2 separate regions of the Homo sapiens genome follow, and region 2 is linked to region 1. The links come from fine-mapping of genetic effects on gene expression. Tissue or cell type: aorta. Region 1 holds a variant in brackets; the other region holds the start of a gene. All regions are shown on one strand. Distances are from middle to middle.

What was found. PIP is the estimated chance that this variant, and not a neighbour inherited with it, causes the effect.
Region 2: CAMLG starts here. The variant in region 1 is fine-mapped to the expression of CAMLG in aorta (GTEx, PIP 0.98).

What each region holds. Positions count from the first base shown.
Region 1 is chr5:134,640,465-134,648,566 of GRCh38, forward strand. It overlaps a transcript of SEC24A not described here. Among named protein-coding and RNA genes, the nearest start is that of SEC24A, 4.3 kb to the right of the region's middle. RefSeq lists enhancers at 7,862-7,921, 7,932-8,102, 7,969-8,102. The variant A/G (reference allele first, on the strand shown) is at 3,779.
Region 2 is chr5:134,734,644-134,742,745 of GRCh38, forward strand. CAMLG (calcium modulating ligand) reads left to right here and starts at 3,905. Exons shown (of 4, transcript NM_001745.4): 1 at 3,905-4,149; 2 at 6,420-6,880. The coding sequence starts at 3,978. RefSeq lists an enhancer at 3,493-3,542.

The DNA.
Region 1 (8,102 bases):
AATGAATGAACGAAGGAGCTGGTGAAGTTATTCATGAGAAAGTGTCATGAGGAAAAGGTAGGTTTAGAGGGGAAGGTATACATCTTTAATACTGTGGTGTCAGGGTATCTGTAGATAAATAGTTGGGTTTAGAAATGGAAAAAGACACTTTGGGAGGCCAAGGCGGGTGGATGGCCTGAGGTCAAGAGTTCGAGATCAGCCTGGCCAACATGGTGAAACCCCATCTCTACTAAAAATACAAAAATTAGCTGGGGGCAGCCACTCATGCCTGTAATCCCAGCACTTTGGGAGGCTGAGGCGGGTAAATCACGAGGTCAGGAGTTTGAGACCAGCCTGGCCAACATGGTGAAACCCGGTCTCTACTAAAAATACAAAACATTAGGTGGGAGTAGTGACAGGCGCCTGTAATCCCAGCTACTTGGGAGGCTGAGGCAGAAGAATCGCTTGAACCCGGGAGGCAGAGGTTGTAGTGAGCTGAGATAGCACCACTGCACTCCAGCCCAGGCGACAGAGTGAGACTCCGTCAAAAAAAAAAAAAGCAAAAATTAGCTGGGTGTGTTGGCGGGCACCTGTAATCCCAGCTACTCGGGAGGCTGAGGTAGGAGAATTGCTTGAACCCAGGAGACAGAAGTTGCAGTGAGCCACGATTATGCCACTGCACTCCAGCATGGGTGACAGAGCGAGACTCTGTCTCAAAAAAAAAAAAATTAGCTGGGCACGGTGGCACACGCCTGTAGTCCCAGCTACTCTGCAGGCTGAGGCAGGAGAATCGCTTGAACCTGGAAGGCGGAGGTTGCATTGAGCCGAGATCGCGCCATTGCACTCCAGTCTGGGTAACAGAATGAGATTCTGTCTCAAAAAGAAAAAAGGAAAAAGAATTGGCATTTGATACTGTACCTCTAGCCCTTCCCGGGTGAGCTGGGCCTGAACAGGGGCTGGCACTACTTCAACTACAGTATTAGGCCTTATCACGATATAACATAACAGTCGAGAACCTGAAAGAACTTGAGACTTCTCATTACTAAGCACTCAAGTGAAAAAAAAAAAAGAACTTAGACCAACATAGTTTAGAAACAAGTGCTAGTGATGTGGTTTAGGCTATAAGTGCAATAGTAACTTATAGTAATGAATTAATGAGGGTCAAAAGAGTTAGAATAGGCCTTGGGCGGTGGTTCATGCCTGTAATCCCAGGACTTTGGGAGGCCGAGGCAGGCTGATTGCTTGAGTCCAGGAGTTTGAGACCAGCCTGGGTAACATGGTGAAATCCCGTCTCTACAAAAAATACACAAATTAGTGGGTGTGGTGGTGTGCACCTGTAGTACCAGCTACTCAGGAGGCTGAGGTGGGAGGATAATTGAGCCCCGGAAGTTAAGGCTACAGTGAGCTATAATCACGCCATTGCACTCCAGTCTAGGTGACAGAGTGAGACCCTGTTTCTAAAAAGGAAAAAAAAAGAAAACAAAATTAAAATTGTCAGAAGTCTGGAAGATAAAGACACTTTAAATTTATTCCTTCAAAAATGTTTACTGAATATTGTACCTGTTAAGTGTGAGGCCCCAAGCCAAGTGTTGAGAATACCCACACTTGTGTGAATAAGACACAGTCCTTGGTCTCTACTCACTGACGGTCTAACAGGGAAACAGACATGGTTACCTTGGAATTCACAGGCTATGTATAGACTTATGGTCCATTGAAAAAAGATAAACAGGCTGGGCACGGTGGCTCACACCTGTAATCCCAGCACTTTGGGAGGCCGAGGCAGGCGGATCACAAGGTCAGGAGATCAAGACCACCCTGGCTAACACGGTGAAACCCATCCTACTAAAAACACAAAAAATTAGCCGGGCGTGGTGGCAGGCGCCTGTAGTCCCAGCTACTCGGGAGGCTGAGGCAGGAGAATGGTGTGAACCTGGGAGGTGGAGCTTGCAGTGAGCCAAGATTGCGCCACTGCACTCCAGCCTGGGCGACAGAGCGAGACTCCATCTCAAAAAAAAAAAAAAAAAGAAAAAAGATAAACATAGACACATAGACACGAATAGGGCCAGGGTCAGTGGCTCACGCCTATAACCCCAGCACTTTGGGAGGCTGAGGCAGGAGGATCACTTGAGGCCAGGAGTTTGGGAGCAGCCTGGGCAACATGGTGAGACCTCATCTCTATCAAATAAGATAATAAAAAAGACACAAATATATAACAATAATAAGTGTTATGAAGAAACATAAGCAGAGTAAGAGGAACACAGAGTGAGCTGTGTCAGGTAGGATATTTAGAGAAGCCCTCTTCAATTAAAGTAATATTTGAACAAGGGCCTAAAGGAGTGAGTTTGAGTTCCCTAGATGTCTTGGGGAAGAGTATCCCAAGTAACAGAAATAAGTGTAATGGCAGGCTTGTGCTTGAATAGCTAGAGAAATAGCAAATGTGTCTGGAGTGGAGTGAGTGGGAAGGAGTGTGGAAGTCAAAGAGGTAGCAAGGCCAGGTCACGTGGGGCCGGGGTAGCACTCTGGATTTTACTTAGCTTGAGATGAGAAAAGTCATGCAGAAAAATTTTAACTTGATGGAGCAAGCAGAGGGAGTAATCACAGATCTGGGAGTATAGGAAAGTAAAAATGGAATCAGTGGTTAAGGAACTCAATTCAACATGTGGGATGGATTAGAGGCAATCCAGAAGGCGATTCATTCCCAACAGTTCAAGTGCAAGATGATGAAAAGTAACCAGAATGGGCAGGAAGAATGGTAAGAGCTACATAAAAATGAGAAGTTTTCAAAGAAAGCAATGGGATTTTCAGGCTTGGTGGGGATGAATGTACTTGTGATGTAGCTTCAGAGCTGCTGACTTCAGATACAAACAGCTGTCCTGTCAGAAGCAAATGAGGCCAAAGGAACTGTTCTTAAAATGGAACCAAAAGAGTTTCAGTAAACAAAACTGTTGTTCTTATAAACCTGTTTGTAACTGAAACTGTTCTTTGTTTGAAATAGAAATGGAACGGTCTTTTTTTTTTTTTTTTTTTTTTAACGGAGTTTTGCTCTGTCCCCCAGGCTGGAGTGCAGTGGCACGATTCCAGCTCACTGCAACCTCCACATCCCGGGTTCAAGCAATTCTCCTGCCTCAGCCTCCCGAGTAGCTGGGATTACAGGGAACTGCCAACATGCCCAGCTAATATTTGTATTTATAGTAGAGATGGGGTTTTACCATCTTGGCCAGACTGGTCTCAAACTCCTGATCTCTTGATCTACCCACCTTGGCCTCCCAAAGTGCTGGGATTACAGGTGTGAGCCATTGTGTCCGGCCGAACAGTATTTTTAATAATTAAAGAACCCAAAATAATTTACCCCTTCCTGAAAAGTAAAGCAAGTTGATCCTATTTATCACCTGAAAATGCAACAGTCATGAGCAGGCAGGCAAAGGAGCTCTGGTGTGAGCCTAAGTCCACTTCTGCATATCAGCAAATTTTATTAGAAATGCCTGTCTCCCAGTTTTGAGTCTAAATAATCAAATGTAATGGAATATTCTTAGTATAATGTTTATATCCTTACTGAAACAGTTTCTTGTCACTTATTTTGTTCTTTACAATTTTCTTTCTTTCTTTTTTTTTTTTTTTCAGACGGGGTTGTGCTCTGTTGCCCAGGCTGGAGTGCACTGGCGTGGTCTCGGTTCACTGCAACTTCTGCCTCCTGGGTTCAAATGATTCTTCTGCCTCAGCTTCCCGAGTAACTGGGATTACAGGCACCTGCCATCACGCCCAGCTAATTTTTTGTATTTTTAGTAGAGACAGGTGTTTC[A/G]CCATGTTGGACTGGCTGGTCTTAAACTCCTGACCTTGTGATCTGCTCGCCACGGCCTCCGAAAGCGCTGGGATTACAGGCGTGAGCCACTGCCCTGGGCCTACAATTTTCTTAACTAGGGTTGAAGGCTCTGAAAATATGCAGAAAATCATATAATGGCCTTATGAAGGTTGTATATATGGCAGAAGGATTCTGTTTTTCTGGACAATAAAGATAAAAAAGTAGAATATATTACTGACATCAGTTTAGAAAAATGTATAGTAGTGTAGTGTACATACAGGTAATTGAACAAAGAAATATCAATAACAATTGGTAAGAGCATTTTTTTTTTTTTTTTGAGACAGAGTCTCCCTCTGTCGCCCAGGCTGGAGTGCAGTGGCAAGATCTCAGCTCACTGCAACCTCTGCCTCCCAGGTTCAGCAATTTTCCCTGCCTCAGCCTCCCAAATAGCTGGGATTACAGGCGCCCGTCACCATGCCTGGCTAATTTTTGTATTTTTAGTAGAGACAGAGTTTCATCATGTTGGCCAGGCTGCTCTCGAATGCCTGACCTCAAGTGATCCACCCACCTTGGCCTACCAAAGTGTTGGGAATACAGGCGTGAGCCACAACGCCTGGCCAAGAGCAATTGTTATAATTGCTATCACCAATAATTTTTTCATATTTCTGTGGCCACACTTAAATGAGTCATCAAATGATTTGATATTGTGTGGATAATACTTAATATGAAAACTTTTAAAATATGTTGTCCCATCTCAGTTACTTAAACTTACCTTCCTACTATCCCAAAGGTTAGGCAGATGACAAATGCTGTTTTTCTTCTGTCTCTCTCTCTCTATATATATGTATATATGTATTCTGAGACAGGGTCTTACTCTGTTGCCTAGGCTGGAGTCCAGTAGCACAATCAACCTCCCAGGCTCAAGCGATCCTCCCATCTTAGTCTTCTGAGCAGCTGGGACTACAGGCATACGTCACCATGCCCAGCTAATTTTTTGTATGTTTTTGTAGAGATGGAGTTTTGCCATATTCCTCAGGCTGTTCTCCAACTCCTGGGCTTAGGGGATCCACTTGCCTTGGCCTCCCAAAGTCCTGGGATTATAGGCGTGAGCCACCATGCCCAGCTCTCCTCAATACTGTAGTGCTGATTACACCGAGAGTGTAAAAACCATTTGAAATACTTAATCATTGCTTTGAGGACACGAACAGTAACATAGCAACTTAGGGGTGGAACAAATTTTAGAGAAAGCATTGTTTACTTATTAGAAAATTATTTATGTTGATTTAACCTGATTTAACCAACTAGACTACTTTTTAAAATCTCTGGGGCCAGGCACGGTGGCTCAGGCCTGTAATCCCAGCACTTTGGGAGGCCAAGGCAGGTTGATCACCTGAAGTCATGAGTTCAAGACCAGCCTGGTCAACATGGTGAAACTCTGTCCCTAGTAAAAATACAAAAATTAGCTGGGCATGGTGACATGCGTCTGTAGTCCCAGCTACTCGGGAGGCTGAGGCAGGAGAATCACTTGAACCCGGGAGGCAGAGGTTGCAGTGAGCCGAGATCGCACCACTGCACTCCAGCCTGGCAACACAGCGACATTCCGTCTCAAAATAAATAAATAAATAAATAAATAAATAAATAAATCTCTGAACACACAGATATTGCTTAAATAGCTTGAACCCGGGAGGCAGAGGTTGCAGCAAGCCAAGGTCGCACCACTGCACTCTAGCCTGACGACAGAGCGAGATTCCGTCTCAAAAAAAAAAAAAAAAAAAAATCTCTGAACACACAGATACTGCTTAAATAGCACAAAGTTCAAAGAAACCTTGATTTAACCAAATCAAACCACTGTGCCAAGGTCAAAACAAATCAAGATCATTCAAAAGGAGCTGAATAAAAAGAGATAATTAAACTAATGCAGGTTTGAGATCAGGTATTTGCCTCTTTGAAGAGTGACCCTGATTTTGTCTGACCTCAGAAAGGTTGTTTCTCTCTGAGCTCTATTTCCTCTTCAAAACATTGAGAGGCTTGTGTCTGTGCAATTTTAAAGTGTTTTTGGATCTATAACTTGGGATTTTGTTATAGTGGCTCCAAACTGTAAACAATTTGACCAAAAGTATCATCTTCATCTTAAGATTTTAACTGGGCGTGGTGGCTCAAACCTGTAATCTCATTTTGGAAGGATGAGGCAGGAGGATCTCTTGCAAGACCTTCTCTTTACAAAAACAAACAAACAAACAAACAAACAAATAAAAACCTAGCCAGGCATAATGGCACACACCTGTAGTTCCAGCTACTCAGGAGGCTGAGGCTGGAGGACTGCTTGAGCCCAGGAGGTTGAGGCAGCAATGAGCTGTGACTGCACCACTGCACTCCAGCCTGGACAACAGACTGTCTCAAAAAAAAAAAAAAAGTTATTGTACTTGGATCTTGTACAAAGGAATTGAATTGTTAAATGCTACTTACAGCAAATATTTATTTATTTTTATTTTTTATTTTTTGAGACAGTCTTGCTGTGTCAGCCAGGCTGGAGTGCAGTGGCACAATCTTGGCTCACAGCAACCTCCGTCTCCTGGGTTCAAGCAATTCTCCTGCCTCATCCTCCTGAGTAGCTGGGATTACAGGCATGTGCCACCACACCTGGCTAATTTTTGTATTTTCAGTAGAGACAGAGTTTCACCATGTTGGCCAGGCTGGTTTTGAACTCCTGACCTCAGGTAATCCGCCCGCCTTGGCCTCCCAAAGTGCTGGGATTACAGTTGTAAGCTACCACGCCCGAGCAAATACATTTTTAGTAAAGTTCTGAGGCAAATGATGAAAACAGGGTTAGTATAAAATTTAGTATTTAGTTATTTGAATTTTTACTGACCTTTTTTAGGCCTGACACAGTGGTTTATTCTTTTTCTTTTCTTAGAGACAAGATCTCACTCTGTCATGCAGGCTGGAGTGCAGTGGTGAGATCACAGCTCACTGTAGCCTCGAACTCCTGGGTTCAGGTGATCCTCCCACATCAGCCTCCTGAGTAGCTGGGACTACAGGGATGTGCCACCACACTGGCCACTTTTTAAAAATTTATTTAATTAAAAACATTGGCTGGGCATGGTGGCTTACGCCTGTAATCCCAGCACTTTGGGAGGCTGAGGCGGGTGGATCAACTGAGGTCAGGTGTTCAAGACCAGCCTGGCCAACATGGTGAAACCCTGTCTCTACTAAAAATACAAAAATTAGCCAGGCATGGTGGCAGGAGCCTGTAATCCCAGCTACTCGGGAGACTGAGGCAGGAGAATTGCTTGAACCCAGGAGGCGGAGGTTGCAGTGAGCGGAGATGGCACCACTGCACTCCAGCCTGGGCAACAGACCAAGACTCTGTCTCAAAAATATATATATATATATATTTTTTAAATAGAGATAAGGGGACTCTCCCTGTTGTCCAGACTGGTCTCAAACTCCTGGCCTCAAGTAATCCTTCTGTCTCAGCCTCCCAAAGTGCTTGGATTACAGGAGTGAGCCACCTTGCCCAGCCCGACACAGTGGTTTAGATCTGGCTTTTTTTTGTATGTAATATAACACTTCATAGCAGGCATTTGGTATTAAATGAATTAGGTAAGATGTACTTCACACTGAGGTTTCGAAACCGCGTGGCATGACATTTTAATCCACAGTACAAATCTGTAAAGGAGGGCTTTATCGTCAGCACAGAGCAGGAAAAACCTAAATAGAATGAAGGCAGCTAAGATGATTACTCAATCATTAATTAACTATGTTGTCCAATCACCGCAGTTTCGACCTCCCTTTGGCTTCAAAAGTCAAAAAAGTCAACTTGCAAAAAAAAAAAAAGTCTACTTGCTCTGAAAGGAAGTTTGAGTTCTTTACCTTACTGTAAACTCTTAGAAGAGGAAACAAAACTGCCATTTAAATGTGCTAATGAACTTGAGCGTGACTATGCTGTGAATCAGCGAGTTTCAAAATTAAAATTCCTCTGAGTCCTCCAGTCAAAGACAAAGGCCTCCTTCTTGGCTTGATCACACTATTAACATGTACACATATTTAACCACCTCTTTTTAAAACCCCTTATAATTTACATCTGAAACACGAAGACGAAATGTGAATGAAATACTGCGATGAACATTAACCGCCCCAGCTCCCAGTGGTGGTACGGTCTCAACAGAGGACGATGACTTCTATGGTCTCAGGTAATCTTCACAAAACCCGAGGAGAGGAACTGTCAGTCCCACCCCACGAAAGCGGCTACTGAATCTCAGATTGCCCCACGATCCTGGCTCTGCGAGCGAGGTCACGTTCACAACGGCGGGAATTTCCGTAG
Region 2 (8,102 bases), 94 kb after region 1:
AGGGTGTTTAACAACTATACTTGAGAAAATTATTGAAATAAAATTTCTGGCTGGGTCCAGGGGCTCACACCTGTAATCCCAGCACTTTGGGAGGCTGAGAAGATTGGATTGTTTGAGCCCAGGAATTTAAGACCAGCAACATAGAGACCCCATCTCTACAAAAAATTTTTTTTAAAAAATTATCTGGGCTCGGCCGGGGACGGTGGCTCATGCCTGTAATCCCAGCACTTTGGGAGGCCAAGGCGGGCGGATCACGAGGTCAGGAGATCGAGACCATCCTGGCTAACACGGTGAAACCCCGTCTCTACTAAAAATACAAAAAAAATTAGCCGGGTGTGGTGGCCGGCGCCTGTAGTCTCAGCTACTTGGGAGGCTGAGGCAGGAGAATGGTTTGAACCCAGGAGGCGGAGCTTGCAGTGAGCCAAGATTGCGCCACTGCACTCCAGCCTGGGCGACAGAGCAAGACTCCATCTCAAAAAAAAAAAAAATTATCTGGGCTCAATCCTGTAGCCTTAGCTACTCAGGAGGCAGAAGCAGGAGGATTGCTTGAGCCCAGGAGTTCAAGGCTGTAGGCTGCAGTGAGCTATGATTGTGCCCCTGCACTCCAGCCTAGGCCATAGAGTAAGACCCTGTGTTTATAAAAATAAAAATTTGACTCATTATGGAATTTAGAGGAAGTAATTTGCTAATTTCTGAAAATTGTTCTTGAATTTCTTTTAAGCAGTTTCATCAATTCATTCTTTTACTCTTTTTCTTTTGAGACAAGGTCTAGCTCTATCACCCAGGTGGTTGTGGAGTGATGCAATCATGGCTCATTGCAGCAAACTTCCTGCCTCGTTTTAAATTTTTTTAAATTTTTTGATTTTTTTTTTTTTCTAGAGACGAGGTCTCACTATGTTACCCAGGCTGGTCTTGAACTCCTAAGCTTAAGCAGTCCTCCCACCTTGGCCTCCCAAAGCGTTGGGATTACAGGTGTGAGCCACTGCGCCTGGACTCTTTTTTTTTGTTTTTCTGAGACAGAGTTTCACTCTGTCGCCCAGGCTAGAGTGCAGTGGTGCAATCTCAGCTCACTGCAACCTCTGCCTCCTGGGTTTGAGTGATTCTCCTGCCTCACCCTCCCGAGTAGCTGGGATTACAGGTGTGTGCCACCATGCCTGGCTAATTTTTGTATTTTTAGTGGAGATGGGTTTCATCATGTTGGCCAGGTTGGTTTCGAACACCTGACCTCAAGTGATCCACCCACCTCAGCCTCCCAAAGTGCTGGGATTAAAGGTGTGAGCCACCGCACCTGGCCTCCCGATCTCTTTTCTTTGTTTTTAAATAGAGAAGGGGGTCTCACTATGTTGCCCAGGTCAGTCTTGAGCTCCTTGCCACAAGTGATCCTCCTGCCTGGACCTCCCACATGCCAGCCCAGACATTTTTTATAATTCTGTTCAAGTTCAGTTATACGGCTTCCTCAGTTTCAAGGAGGAATGAAATATTACTTGGAAATAATTTGCTTGATGCTTATATCATTGAATATAACACTATAATTCTAATTTAGCTCCTCAAACCCTTTCTGGAACCGTCTTGATTGATCAGGGCTGTGCCTCATCAAATTCTGCACATTTGTTACTATTTGACAGTTATTTCCATTATTTTCAGTTGTGTGTAAAATTGTTTTAAGGAAGTCTAGGGCTCAGAGATCTATGTCTGTGCAGATATGCAGAAGAACTTCCTCTAATACTTTAAAATTATTAACTAGTGGATGTCCCTGGGATTTAACTTTCATCCAATCAAGGGTGAAAGTTCAGTCTGTATATTCTTTGAGCTCCTTATGTTGTTGAATCCAAACCGAAGTTTCTTTTGTTTTCACTTCTTTTTCAGTATTAATATAAATATAGTATTTTATTATCTTCTAAGTGGTATTTCACCCACTTCCTTATTTTGAGGGTGATTGTGTGGCAGGCTTAGTTGCAGGGGGCCCACCCAGTAAGCTGCTTCAAAACCCTCCTCAGCCTCAGGTGTGAACTGGCCATGCTCCCTGTTAGCAAGGGTTGATGGATTCAATTCCTTCATTCATCTAATCATTCACTTAGTAAGTCATTACTGAATGCCAAGGCTGCATTATGACTTTCAAGGGCCCTAAGCTCTTTTGCCTTTGTGGCTCCTTCCTGCCTGAAAACATACTTAAAATTATATTTTATGACTGTATTGCTATTAATGATGACTATAATCCAGACTGGATCCATTACAATATAGCAAATATATTATTTTTTTCTGAAAAAACTTTTTTGAGATGGGGTCTCACTGTGTCACCCAGTCTGGAGTGCAGTGGCCCGATCATTGCTCACTGCAGCTTCAACCTCCCCAGGATCAGGTGATCCTCCCACCTTAGCCTCCCAAGTAGCTGGGACCACAGGCACACGCCACCAAGCCCGACTAATTTTTGTATTTTTAGTACAGTCAGGGTTTTGCCACGTTGGCCAGACTGGTCTCGAATTCCTGGCCTCAAGTGATCCACCCATCTCAGCCCTCACAAAGTGCTGGAATTACAGGCATGAGCCACCGCGCCCAGTCATTTGTTCTGATTTTATTTTATTTATTTCTTTTATATATGTATTTTTGAGACGGAGTCTCCCTCTGTCGCCCAGGCTGGAGTGCAGTGGCATGATCTCGGCTCACTGCAATTTCTGCCTCCCAGGTTCAAGCGATTCTCCTGCCTCAGCCTCCCAAGTAGCTGGGATTACAGGTGCATGCCACCAGGTCAGGCTAATTTTTGTATTTTTAGTAGAGACGGGGTTTTGCCATATTGGCCAGGCTGGTCTCGAACTCCTGACCTCAGGTGATCCGCCTGCCTCGGCCTCCCAAAGTTAGGATTACAGACGTGAGCCACCGCTCCCGGCCTTTTTGTTTTTTTCTTTTCTTTTCCTTTTTTTTTTTTGAGACGGAGTCTCGTTCTGTCGCCCAGGCTGGAGCATCTTTAGCATGCGAGGTGGTCATGAACGACAAGGAGAAAAAACAAGGTGAAGGGGAATGGGGAGTGTTGGCAATTTAGATAGAATGTGCACGAAAGGTTTCAATGGGAAATTCTAATTTGAATAAAAACGCACAAAACGCGAGGAAAGCCTAGGAACACATCAGCCGTATACTTTGCCGTAGAGAAGTTAAGGATGAGGAACAGGCACCAAGAACAAATCCCAGCGTAAGGCTCCCTTTAAGTGCGGCTCCCAGGGTTACGTATTCCCATTGCCTACAGGCGAGGCCGCGGGTCTGTAAACAAGCGACTGCCGCTGCAACCTCCATTTTGCTTCCTGGCACCAAATCTAGGCTGACCTACTTACTGCCATCCCTTTCCCACTCCCGGTTTTCTTTTCTTTCTTTTTTTTTTTCTCGAGACAGAGTCTCGCTCTGTAGCCCAGGCTGGAGAACAGTGGCGCGATCTCGGCTCACTGCAACCTCCGCCTCCTGGGTCCAAGAGATTCTCCTGCCTCAGCCTCCCGAGTAGCTGGGATTACAGGCGCGCGCCACCCCGCCCGGCTAAGTTTTTGTATTTTTAGTAGAGACGGGTGGGGGGAGGGGGGAGGGGGTCACCATGTTGGCCAGGCTACTCTCGAAATCGTGACCTCGTGATCCGCCCGCCTCGGCCTTCCAAAGTGCTAGGATTACAGGCGTGAGCCACCACTCCCGGCCCTGGGTGCTGGTTTTCTTCACCTCCGAGTGAACAGCAGAGGGGGCTGTTGGGTGAGGGCCAGAAGAGTTGGGGAGGCACGAGGGCGTCCAGCGCTGCCCTCACTCAAGATGGCGGCCAGAGCCTCGCGCTTGGTCGCGTGGGGCGGTGCGTGAGTGCTTAGCTCACAGGCTCCGGGACCGCGCTCGGGGGCGGGTCTATAGTGGGAAGGGGACGCGCGCCCTGCGGCCCGGCCTCTAGTCATCGCCCTCGCAGCGGCGGCCAACATCACCGCCACTGCCACCCCTCCCAGACTGTGGACGGGAGGATGGAGTCGATGGCCGTCGCTACCGACGGCGGGGAGAGGCCGGGGGTCCCAGCGGGCTCAGGTCTGTCGGCTTCCCAGCGTCGGGCGGAGCTGCGTCGGAGAAAGCTGCTCATGAACTCGGAACAGCGCATCAACCGGATCATGGGCTTTCACAGGCCCGGGAGCGGCGCGGGTAAGAGCCTCGATTTCCCCTCAGTCTCCCGCCCATCACCTTGAATCTTCAGGGTCATTCTTCCCTCTCCCACCTCCACTCCTCTGACCTTTTTGACCAAGCCTTGCTCTTTGATTTCCTCTCTGTCCCGCCCCTTCGGTGATATCCCAAGTTCTCATCCCTGAACCCCAGGATGTTCCTAGTCGCTCCCCTCAATTTTCCCGGGGCCTCGCCGTGAGATTTTCCCCACCCTGCCTGCAGAGCTCTCACTCCCTCTTCCCAGTTACGTTGAACAGCCCCTTTTTTCCTTAGCCACTCCTCGCCTTTCTTGAAGGGCGCACGTTGTATCCCCAGACTGTCATGTCTACTGCTCCCCTTAGGAAGATGGCTTTCCTTCTTAAGGTTCCAAGTGCTTTTCCTTACAGTGCCTTCTCTAGCGTCTACCTTCTTTTGCCTTTTGCTGTGTAACTCCTGTCCGCCCACATCAGCCTGTCTTTACTGAACTGCCCGCTAGTTCATCCTACGTGTATCAGGGACTCTTGTGCTCATATCCTAGTGTTTGTGTTCAGTGCCGTCAACACTGTCACCTACGGGCCGGCTAGAAAAGGTGGGAAAAGTGAGAGTGAGCATTCTTCAGAGACCCAGCAAGTGCGAAGTGCACACCTGAGAGTTTCCTCTCCTCATGAGGGGATATTGTTGTGATTGATGTCTGGAGCTGCATTTCTAAGGAGAGCGCCTCCTTCCTCCCCCAAACACATGTCCAATGATTTTCTTTAAAAAAAATTTATTTCACGTGAGTATAATTGAGCAATTAGCGCGCCCTAGTGTTATCTAAGTTTCCAGTGTTTCCTTTAGTAATTGGCCTTTAGTCACTGGTCGCAAGCTCCTTATATCTTTGTGACTTTTGTTCTGTAAGGCTTTAGGTGTATAGCTCTGAACTTTTAGGCAGTTCAAATGAGAGGTAAGAAAACCATTTCAAATTCTTCTAGAACAATAGAAGAAACATTTTTCTATCGGGCTATTTATTCTTAAAGCATTATTTATGATCTTACCTGAGGTACTTTCTATATTTTGTTCTTTTGCTTTGAAAATTTTATGTCTTTAAAGGTTGTTTTATTTTTTGAGACAGGGTCTCCCTCTGTAGGCCAGGCTGGAGTGCAGTGGCATGATCATAGCTTACTGCAGCCTCAAACTCCTGGGCTTAAGCAATCCTGCTACCTCAGCCTCCGGAGTAGCTAGGACCACAGGTGTACACCACCATGCCTGGCTAATTTAAAAAAAAATTGTGTGTGTGGAGATGGGGGGGTCTCACTATGTTTCCTAAGCTGGTCTGGAACTTCTGGGCTCAAGTGATCCACCAGCCTTGGCTTCCAAAAGTGCTGGGCTTACAGGATTACAGGTGTGAGCCATTGTGCCTGGCCTTTTTTTTAAAACAAAAACAAAAACAAAACCCCAGAGTAGTGTCTTAAAACTGCTGAAGTGCCTACTAATGGCTGCCTGACTACATAAACAGTAGCTTTGGGATATGCCACACCCTATGCTCATAGGGCACTGGATTCAGAAATCTAATTTTAAAATATAGATTTTAAAAGGCTTTACTGATTTTATATTTTTAACCAAATAAGCTAAGGCAGGCAATGCAATCATACATCTGGGATATATTATCCATAAAAAGTTGGTCTTTTCAGCTTGCTCCATCTCTGAATATCTTTCCCAGTTTGTCTACTAATCTTATCTCCTACCCACAAAGTTTGGGTTATTTCCTCTGCAGAATATTCATTTTGGGTGATACATTTTGAGGGTGTAGAGGAAGAATCCAGCTTTTTTCTTTTTTTTGTTTTGAGATGGAGTCTCACTCTGTCGCCAGGCAGATGCAGATGGAGTGTAGTGGCGCAGTGTCTGCAACCTCCTCCCCCCGGGTTTCAAGTGATTCTCCTGCCTCAGCCAGAGTAGCTGGGACTATAGGCAGCTGGGACTACAGACACACGCCACCACACCCAGCTAATTTTTGTATTTTTAGTAGAGACGGGGTTTCACCATGTTGGCTAGGATGGTCTCAATCTCTTGACCTCATGATCCGCCCGCCTCAGCCTCCCAAAGTGTTGGGATTACAGGCGTGAGCCACGGCACCTGGCCGAAACCAGCTTTTCTTTAATGCAGAATCGGTATTTATTTATTTTGATGCAGAGGCTGCTGAGTTCTAGCTGCAACAGCATATTTTAAAACATAAACATGTAAGGTGTTTGCCAGTATGGAATAAATACATAAGGCTTTTACATTTCTTTTCTCAGAAGAAGAAAGTCAAACAAAATCAAAGCAGCAGGACAGTGATAAACTGAACTCCCTCAGCGTTCCTTCCGTTTCAAAGCGAGTAGTGCTGGGTGATTCAGTCAGTACAGGAACAACTGACCAGCAGGGTGGTGTGGCCGAGGTAAAGGGGACCCAACTGGGAGACAAATTGGACTCGTTCATTAAACCACCTGAGTGCAGTAGTGATGTCAACCTTGAGCTCCGGCAGCGGAACAGAGGGGACCTGACAGCGGACTCGGTCCAGAGGGGTTCCCGCCATGGCCTAGAGCAGTACCTTTCCAGATTCGAAGAAGCAATGAAGCTAAGGAAACAGCTGATTAGTGAAAAACCCAGTCAAGAGGATGGAAATACAACAGAAGAATTTGACTCTTTTCGAATATTTAGATTGGTGGGATGTGCTCTTCTTGCTCTTGGAGTCAGAGCTTTTGTTTGCAAATACTTGGTAAGAAAAGATCTGTAAATTATTAACTAACTTAATGGAAAATGCAAAATGTTAATAATTATGAGTGCTTTTGATCATAGAAGTCATTGCCAGTATTAATATCTACCAGATCCATGTGGCTGTTTGAAGATATATTATTAACTTTGCTATTCATCTCATAGAATGAAGTGTTCTGGTTAAATACAGAGCCTAATAATTACTGTTGGCCCTCCATATCAGTTGGTTCTGCACCCTATGTGGATTCAACCAATTGTGGATTGAAAATATTTGGATTTAGCCGGGCGTGGTGGTGCACGCCTGTAATCCCAGTTACTTGGGAGGCTGAGGCAGGAGAATCGCTTGAACCCGGGAGGTGGAGGTTGCAGTGAGCCAGGATAACGGCACTGCACTCCAGCCTGGGTGACAGAGTGAGACCCCGTCTCAAAAATATATGTATGTGTATATATTTGGGGGAAAAATAACAATACAACAATAACAAATAGTAAATAATACAAATAAAAACAGTATAACAACTATTTACATTGCATTAGGCATAAAAAATCTAGAAATGATTTAAAGTATATGGGAGGAAGTGAGTAGGTTATATTTACTGTGCCGTTTTACATAAGGGACTTGAGCATCTATGGATTTTGGTATCAGGAGGAACCTGGTACCAGTCCTCTGCTGATACTGAGGGATGACTGTACTAAAACCCATTTTTCATTCTACGGACCTTTCTCATTGTTTTGCATACATTAATTCATCTAATCCTCATTCTTATGAACTTGGTATTATGTGAATCCATTGGGAAATGAAGACTCAGAGAGGTTAAACCATTTGCCCAAGGTCACACAGCTACTAAGCGGTGCTAGGATTAAACCCTGGCAGTTTCAGTCCTTAACCAAAGGGTTAAGTGCTTTACATATATATACTGTATATTATCAATTTTCAAATAATTTGAAATAGTAAAATGCAGTTCCTCTGGTCCTGAATATGAGGTAATCTTCCTATGGTTCAGAAGACATTTCAGCATTTCCTAATATATCATAATGAGTCCATTTTGGTTGTACCATGATGTAGTCATTTTGTTTTATAGTATATTAAAGAATGCAGAAAAGCATAGCTCATAGTTCAGTGTCTTGCTCTGAGGTTTTTCCATTCAGTAGACATTTTAAGTATATGTACCAGGCACATAAATATCCAGATAATTAAAGTTTATATCATTAAGCAAAACAGTTTTTGT